Linked DNA regions of Homo sapiens: region 2 is linked to region 1. Evidence: fine-mapped expression QTL. Tissue or cell type: whole blood. Region 1 holds a variant in brackets; the other region holds the start of a gene. All regions are shown on one strand. Distances are between the middles of the regions.

Region 1 (4,163 bases):
ACCTCCCTGGGGACCAACCAGGAGCCTTTATCCTCAGCCCCCAAATTGTCAAATTCTCACATCCATTTGTTCCTTAATTCCCCGGCAGTATTTCTTTTGTTGTCACCCCTCTGACAAAGTTCTCCTGAGGGCTCCAACTGCCCAACACAGTGGTCTGTTCATGCGCCATCCTAGCGACCACTGAACACCCTCTCATTTTGGAAACCTTCCCTCCTTTGCCCTGAGGTGACACCCACTTCCCCACCAATCCCTGGCTCTCACTGCAGCCACCAGTTTATTTTATTTATTTATGTATTTATGTATTTATTTGGAGACGGAGTTTTGCTCTTGTTGCCCAGGCTGGAGTGCAATGGTGCGATCTCGGCTCACCGCAACCTCCGCCTTCTGGGTTCAAGCAATCCTCCTGCCTCAGCCTCCCGAGTAGCTGGGATTACAGGCATGCGCCACCACGCCCGACTAATTTTGTATTTTTAGTAGAGACAGGGTTTCTCCATGTTGGTCAGGCTGATCTTGAACTCCCGACCTCAGGTGATCTGCCCTCCTCGGCCTCCCAAAGTGCTGGGATTACAGGTATGAGCCACCGCGCCCGGCCAGCCACCGATTTATTTTAAAATCCCAGAGCTGAACAGGTAGACATCCTGGCTTCCCCCAACTCCTCCGCCCACTGGCACTGCACCCCACACCCCTAAAAACCCTCTCCTGTGAGTCTGCACATGTGATAAAGTTTCATGGAACCAAACACACCCACACCCCCACACACACACACACCCCCAACACTCACACACCTGTGCACACACTCAGTGCACAGTTGTTTTTCTTTGCCTAAGCACCATGCTATTTTTGTCTCCATACCTTTGCACAAGTTGCTCCCTTTGCCCAGGAAGTTGTCTCTTCCTTGCTTGATGGACTTAAGCCCTTATTCCCCTCCCTGAAGGGTTGGTTCAGCCCCGCCCTGGTGCCACCAGACCACTTTGTATCTGTCTCAGTTGTTGTACTTACAACCTTGAACAATGGTCTGGTCTTTGGCTCGTCCAGAGCAGAAGCTCAAGCAGGCTGATGTGTGGGGTTGACTTACATTCCAGAGAGCGATGACATCCTTGCCTTATTGCCTGTCTTCCTCCCTGTAACTCTGAGCTGCTCCATTTTAGCTACAACTCATGACAAGCTGTGGAGGCTTCTAAACTAGCCAGATGTCTGAACCCCGCCACGACTGCGTGGGTCTGAGCTGGAACCTGAGTATTTGTGCTCTTTTAAAGTTCCTCAGGGATTCATGCATTTAAGTTTGGGTATATGTGTATATGTGCAAGTATATAAGTATGTATGTATCTACCTATTTATCTGTTCTTTCATCTATCTGTCCACCTGTCCATGCATCTATCTGTCTCTCGTCTATCATCCATCCATTTACTTCTCTCTCATCTATCTATCTATCTATCTATCTATCTATCTATCTATCTATCTATCTATCTATCATCTATCTATCATCTATCATCTATCTGTCTGTCTATCAATTATCTATCTATCTATCTATCTATCTATCTATCTATCTATCTATCTATCATCTGCCAGGGTTGAGAAGAATCAGAATCCTAGAAACCTGACACCATTTATGTTTTTTGTTTCTTTCCCCAACACCTAACCTAGTAACTGTCAGATAACAAAACATTCCTCCCTTTTTTTCTCTTTTCCTTCCTTCCTGCTTTCTTATATGTAAGTGCATGGATGAGTGCATTTTCCCCAGCTTGTCTCCTTCCCTCCAGCACAGACCCTCTCTGTTTCCTGCCCAGCCTTTTGGGTTCCAGTTCCTTAATCCCCAGGCCCACTTACCTGGAAGGATGAGAAGGAACAGGACCAGTGAGCACTACATGCCCCTGCCTGTCTGTGCTCTCTCCCTGGTGATGAGTTAATACCAGCTGCCCTCCAGCAACTTGTAACTGAACCCAGAGGCAAACTGCTTCCTACTTGTCTAAATCATTTTTTTTGTTTGTTTTCTCAACTGCTTCCTTTTTTTTTCTTTAGTTACTTCCTAAATTCATGAATTAAGAGAAACGTGGTGCTGTCTTTTTGGAGTGTGTGTGGTGTGA[T/C]GATACGTCTTCAATGAACTGGGGAAGTAAATGGTCCAGGCCTGGCCTGGGCTCCATCTGCAGCTGTCTGTGATTTAGGAGCATCTGCCAACAACACAGGGCAGGGAGTACAGTAAGGCTCAGAGCGTGGACGGAAGGGATTGATGGAGGCACGCTGGCTTTGCCTCAGAGCGTAGAGGGAAGGGATTGATGGAGGCGCCCTGGCTTTGTCTCAGAGCGTGGAGGGAAGGGATTGATCGAGGCGCGCTGGCTTTGCACTTTGGGAAGAACACAGCACAGTGCTCCCATCCAGCCTCGCTGGAGAAACAGCCTGTGCCCCAGGCTCTTTCCAGGCAGCCCCACGGCAGGGCATCTCAAACCACCCTTCCAGCCCTGGGCTGTTATCTCTTCTGGAGCCTGACTCAGTGCTCCTCTCTAGGAAAGCTTCCTCTGGGGTCCTGAGTCACTCCAAACTGGAGGCTTGTGGTAGGTAGTTGGGGAAGGGGAAGTTGCCTTTTTTCTCTAGCCCCACTTTGCCCTGGTTCCTTCCTCCCCATCTCTGCACATTTTCCCTGCAGTTGGCTTTTGGCCAATCTCACTGCACCGAAACTGCTTGCTCTGTTGATCCCCAAAGTGACTTTCCCAGACTCCCCCCTCTTCCTTTAGATGGTCCCCTCCCTCCTCTGTCACCTGCTCCCTCTTCCTCTCCTCCTTCTTTGCTGAAGCCCCTCCTTGCTCTCACTGCCTAATCCATTCCTGCCCCCACCACCCTGCATCTGCAGGAGCCTGTCCTGATGCTCTCCTCTGGAGCCCTTCTCTCCAGGGAGTGTCCTCACCTGCACTCTAAAGTCACCTCTATGCACAAGACTGTCAAAAGCAGTTTGTCACCTGATTTCCTGCCTCAGTGCTTGGCTGTCATTTCCAGTGCCTATTGGTTGTTTCATAGAGATACCCACTTTGTTAACAGCTCAGATGTGCTCAAAATTAAATTCCGTGTCCTCTTCACTCTAAGATTGGTCTATTACTGTGCCTGGTCCATGGCCCTGGGGCTTCCCGACTCCCTGCTGTGTTCCCTCCTTAACCCCCTGTCAGTTTAGCCTTCCTAAGACAAAGCCCATCATATCTTCACCTGCAAAGGGCTTTGCAGGGGTGGGGGATTAGAGGCAGAGCAGCAGAAAGCTTTGCCAGTGGGAGCAGAGGAGGGCGTGGTGGGTCAGTTCTTGGGGAGGAAGTGGAGGAGGCCCCTGAGCAATATCTGTTTATGTTTGTTTATTTATTTATTTTTGAGACAGAGTCTTGCTCTATCACCCAGGCTGGAGTGCAGTGGTGTGATCTTGGCTCACTGTAACTTCCGCCTCCTGGGTTCAAGCAATTCTCCTGCCTCAGCCTCCCGAGTAGCTGGGACTACAGGCATGTGCCACCACACCAGACTAATTTTTGTATGTTTAGTAGAGACGGGGTTTTGCCATGTTGGCCAGGCTGGTCTTGAACTCCTGGACTCAAGTGATCTGCCTGCCTTGGCCTCCCAAAGTGCTGGGATTACAGGTGTGATCCGGGCCTTCTGTTTATGTTTGAAGCTGCACCTTCTCTTGGGATTTTGGAGTGTCTTGGTGAGCCCTGGTGCTGCTGCCTAGAGCCAAGAACGCATGGGAGGGGGCAGGACTTCAGGGACCATAGACAGACTTTCTTTCTTCCTTCTTTCCTTCCTTCCTTCCTTCCTTCCTTCCTTCCTTCCTTCCTTCCTTCCTTCCTTCCCAGTTTTATTAAGGTATAATTGGGATAAAATAAACTGCACATATTTAAAGTGCACAATTTGAAACACTTTTCTTGTTGTTTTTATGATTTTTTCAAATGTATTATTTATGGGCATTCAGCTAGTTTCAAGTTCAGGGCCATGATGCATAGTGTGCTGTGAACATTTTAGACCATGCCTTTGGCGGGCTTCTGGTACCCTCCTTAGCAGCTTTTGAAGGGATCCCCATTCCCTCTATCTGGAGAAAAAATTGTGCCGTAGATCAGGCTGATATGGTTTGGCTGTGTCCCCACCCAAATCTCATTTGAATTGTAGCTCCCATAATCCCCACCAGGAGGGACCCAGTG
Region 2 (4,163 bases), 24 kb before region 1:
TTATAAACAACTGTAGGGATAAGATTTTCAAAAAAGGAACCAGAAGAAAACATTATAAAAGCAGAACCAAGAAGGCTGAAGATTTGTTTGGTCCTCTTGGTGGAAAGAACTGAAGCCTGCAACTGTTGTCTCTGCTGAATAAATGGCACAAGGGTTGCTATGGTTTGAATGTTCCCTCAGAAACTCGTGTTGAAACTTAACTGTCAATGTAATGGCATTGGGATGTGAGGTCTTTAAGAGGTGATTAGGCCATGAGAGCTCAGTCCTCCGAGTGGATTAATGCTGTTATCTCCGGAGTGGGTTAGTTATTGTGAGAGTGGTTTCCTGAGAGGCTGAGTTCAGTCCCCTTTTTCTCTCTGTCTAGGAGGCTTGCCTGCTGTCTTGTCTTCTGCCATGGAATGACGCTTGTCAGATGCCACTACGATGCTCTTGGACTTCTCATCTTCAGAAAGCTAGGAAGGTGAACAAATTTGTTCTTTTTTATTATTATTATTTGAGACAGAGTTTCTCTCTGTCGCCCAGGCTGAAATGCAGTGGCGTGATCTTGGCTCACTGCAACTTTCGTCTCCTGGGTTCAAGCAATTCTCCCACCTCAGCCTCCTGAGTAGCTGGGACTACAGGCTCATACCACCATGCAGGGCTAATTTCTGTATTTTTGTTAGAGACAGGGTTTTGCTATGTTGGCCAGGCTGGTCTGAAACTCCTGACCTCAAGTGATCTACGTGCCTCGGCCTCCCAAAGTGCTAGGATTACAGGCATGAGCCACTGCACCTGCCAACTTTTGTTCTTTATAAATTAGCTAGCCTGTAGTATTCTGTTATAGTAGAAGAAAATGGACTAAGACACAATGTTGTGGCTACTGTCAGCTCTGCTCATTCTGGATCCCTCAAGTGTGTGGCTCATGTCACACATGGGACCAGGGTCCTGGTGTTTTATTGTTCCATCCAGGGCTCTATTCTATATATAATCTATCTATCTTTCTTTCTTTCTTTTTCTTTCTTTCTTTCATCTTTCTTTCTTTTTTTTTTAGATGGAGTCTCTCTCTGTTGCCAGGCTGGAGTGCAATGGTGTGATCTTGGCTCATTGCTTTGCAACCTCCACCTCCTGGGTTCAAGTGATTCTCCTGCCTTGGCCTCCCAAGTAGCTGGGATTACAGGCACGTGCCACCATGCCTGGCTATATAATACTTCATCAGATATGGTGGTACAGAAAAGATAAGAAGTTGTGCTCTTACAACAAAAGTTTGAAATATCAGATGATCCAGTAGAGTTCTAAAAGATAGTAAAGATTAGAGGCTGTGGGTATCAAAGATGGGTATCTCTGGGGAAAGAGAAGGAAAGAAATTATATTTTCAGATAGCTATGTCTTAGAGAAGAGTATCTTCTGATGTGCAAGTTGGATTAGAGAGAATGTATAGCTAGTGGAGGGACCAGATGAGAAGCTATTTCAATGGTCCAGGACTATTCTAAAGGTATTTAATATTAACTGGGCAGTTACTATGTTCCAGGCACTGTATCAAGCACTTTACTTACATTAACTCATTTATTTCCTGTGGCAACCCTTTGAGAAAGAATTGTCATGAGTACTCTATTTTACAGATGAGGAGACTGAGGAGGAGAGTGATTTGGCAACATGCCCAAGGTCAGATGATTAATAAATGATGGAGATGAGATTTGAGTTTGTGTGACTTCAGAATCTATGCTGTTGACCATGACCCATATACTGAACTAGGTTAACAGTGTATAACCAGGTGGAGCTTCCCTATAGGAAGTTAGAAAGTAGGATCTGGAGCCCAGGAGAGATATTGGGATATTGGGTTAGAGGAAGAGGTGTGAAGTCATCCGCATGGAGATAACGGTTGAGAAAGACATGGGGAGTGATCACCACAGCTCCTTAAGTAGAGGGTGTTTTATGATTCAAAAGTAGGCAGCCATAGAGAAGGGAAGCTCCTTAGATCGATGAAGTAATCCCAGATAGGAAGAAGAGTGAAAGAGGCAGGGAACAGAGTTTTCTCTGTTGGAGAGGTTTCGTAAACTGGGACTGACTTTCATGAAATTCCGAGTCATGAAATCTCAGGGGGTGACTCAAACATTACGTTCACATTAAATGAAGGCCAACAGATTTTCCTGTTTGTGCTTGGTCCATTCTCAGAAACGTCTCTTGCCACCCTTTCTCTTCTGCTAAGTAAGGCTTAAAATTAGGAAGCATTCTTTAAAAGGCAAAAGAGGAAATAGATGAGTGAGAACACAAAGGAAACTTGGACAAGTAGAAAGTGGATGACCCAGGCTCCGTTACATATACTTGGATTCCAGCTGGGACCTAGATTTGCTGAGGACGGAAGCCAAGGAGACAGGAACATGTGGCTGCTCCCAGCTCTACTCCTTCTCTGCCTCTCAGGTGAGTGGGGCTGTGGCTTTGGGGACTTGGTTTTGCAGGGGGCAGGACAGTAGGTAGAAGAGCTGTCCTGGGTTCAAACCAGAGGTGAAGTGTCCACAGAAAAGGGAAAGATACATCCGTTCATTCACCTGTGCATCCTTCTATACATTCAATCATTCATCCACGGATCCTACAAACACTTACTGAGCACCAGATATGTGCCAGGACTGTTCTGGGTGCTGTAATTAAGAGTAACTTCTGAACTGAGGGAGTCAACTAACTACAATACAATGTGGAAATTACTGTTGTAGAGACTCATTCATGTGGTGATGAGAGTATGCAACAGGAACCCCTCACTTTGCTCTTGGAAGGGTGGGAGATGTCACTGAGGCTTCATTGGAAGTCCATCCTGCAGGATGAATGAGTTGGCTGAGTGGGAAAGGAATAGCTTATGTGCAAGTGTGAGGACATTAAAGACCATGGAGAGTTCAAGAATTAACAATAGTTCTGTTTTGACGAAGCTTAGTGTAAAGGGGTTGGAATGGTTTGTGAGAAATAATTAATGGGCTGGGCGTGGTGGCTCACGCCTGTAATCCCATCACTTTGGGAGGCCAAGGTGGGTGGATCACCTGAGGTCAGGAGTTTGAGACCAGCCTGGCCAACATGGTGAAACCCTGTCTCTACTAAAAATACAAAAATTAGCTGGGCGTGGTGATGCATGCCTGTAGTCCCAGCTACTAGGGAGGCTGAGGCAGGAGGATCGCTTGAACTTGGGAGGCGGAGGTTGCAGTGAGCCGAGATTGCACCACTGCAGCAGTCTGGCCTGGGTGATAGAGTTGAGATCCTGTCTGAAAAAAAAAAATGCCATCCTCAACATCTACCTTAAATCCTTCCCGGAACAAGGTGTGGTGTAAACAAGTAAATGAAACTGTCCTGCAAAGGTTGGACTTCAGAAGAGAAACTCTTATTAATAGACATTCAAAATACAAAACTGCAGGAAAACACATTTGTCTCTGGGGAAATAAATTTAGGCTAAAAATTAGAGGACATTCTTCATGTTTGCAGAATGAATTTTATGGTTGAGTTCCCTCACAAAACATAGAAATTGCCCAATGTAATGACAAGATTCTTTCTAGAAGGGTGAGTGAAAATGACAGCGATTTAAAGGAAGAAGACCAGGTAGGTGACATGGACCCAAACTCGTGGGCTCAAGCAATCCTCCTCTCTTGACCTCCCAAAGCACTGGGATTACAGGCATGAGCCACTGCACTCAACCAATGTTTGCTCATTTTGTATTTGAATTTGCTTCCTTTTTCTTTGCCCTTTCCATCTCTCTTTCCACCCCTATCTCATTCCCCATCCTCAGACTCGCAATGTGACCTGCGCAGGTCCCTCTGAAAATCTTAACTGGGAAAGAGAGATGGAAAGGGCAATTCTAGCAGGGAGGGGAAATGACAAAGAGGAAGGAAGCAAATTCAAATACAAAATAAGCAAACGTTGGTTGAGTGAGGTGGCTCACACCTGTAATCCCAGTGCTTTGGGAGGTCAAAGCAGGAGGAATGCTTCAGCCCAGGAGTTTGAGATCAGCCTGGGCAACATAGCAAGACCCCATTTCTACAAAAAAAGAAAAGTAAAAAATTTAAAAAGAGCAAAACTAGAATTCTATTTATTACACATTTTTATAACCTATAAACACTTCCAAATAGATGATAGAATTTAACCCTCTGAGCAGTTTTGTGACCCAGGCAGGGCAAATAGCATTGACTCCACTTTATAAATAAGATGAT

The links. PIP is the estimated chance that this variant, and not a neighbour inherited with it, causes the effect.
Region 2: CD300E starts here. The variant in region 1 is fine-mapped to the expression of CD300E in whole blood (TOPMed, PIP above 0.99).

Annotation. Positions count from the first base shown.
Region 1 is chr17:74,597,613-74,601,775 of GRCh38, reverse strand. It overlaps LOC101928343 (a long non-coding RNA gene), which reads right to left and starts at 1,936. Exons shown (of 4, transcript NR_158152.1): 1 at 1,828-1,936. The variant T/C (reference allele first, on the strand shown) is at 2,085.
Region 2 is chr17:74,621,816-74,625,978 of GRCh38, reverse strand. It overlaps CD300E (CD300e molecule), which reads left to right and starts at 2,241. Exons shown (of 4, transcript NM_181449.3): 1 at 2,241-2,397. The coding sequence starts at 2,358. LOC101928343 (a long non-coding RNA gene) reads right to left here. Exons shown (of 4, transcript NR_158152.1): 4 at 1-452.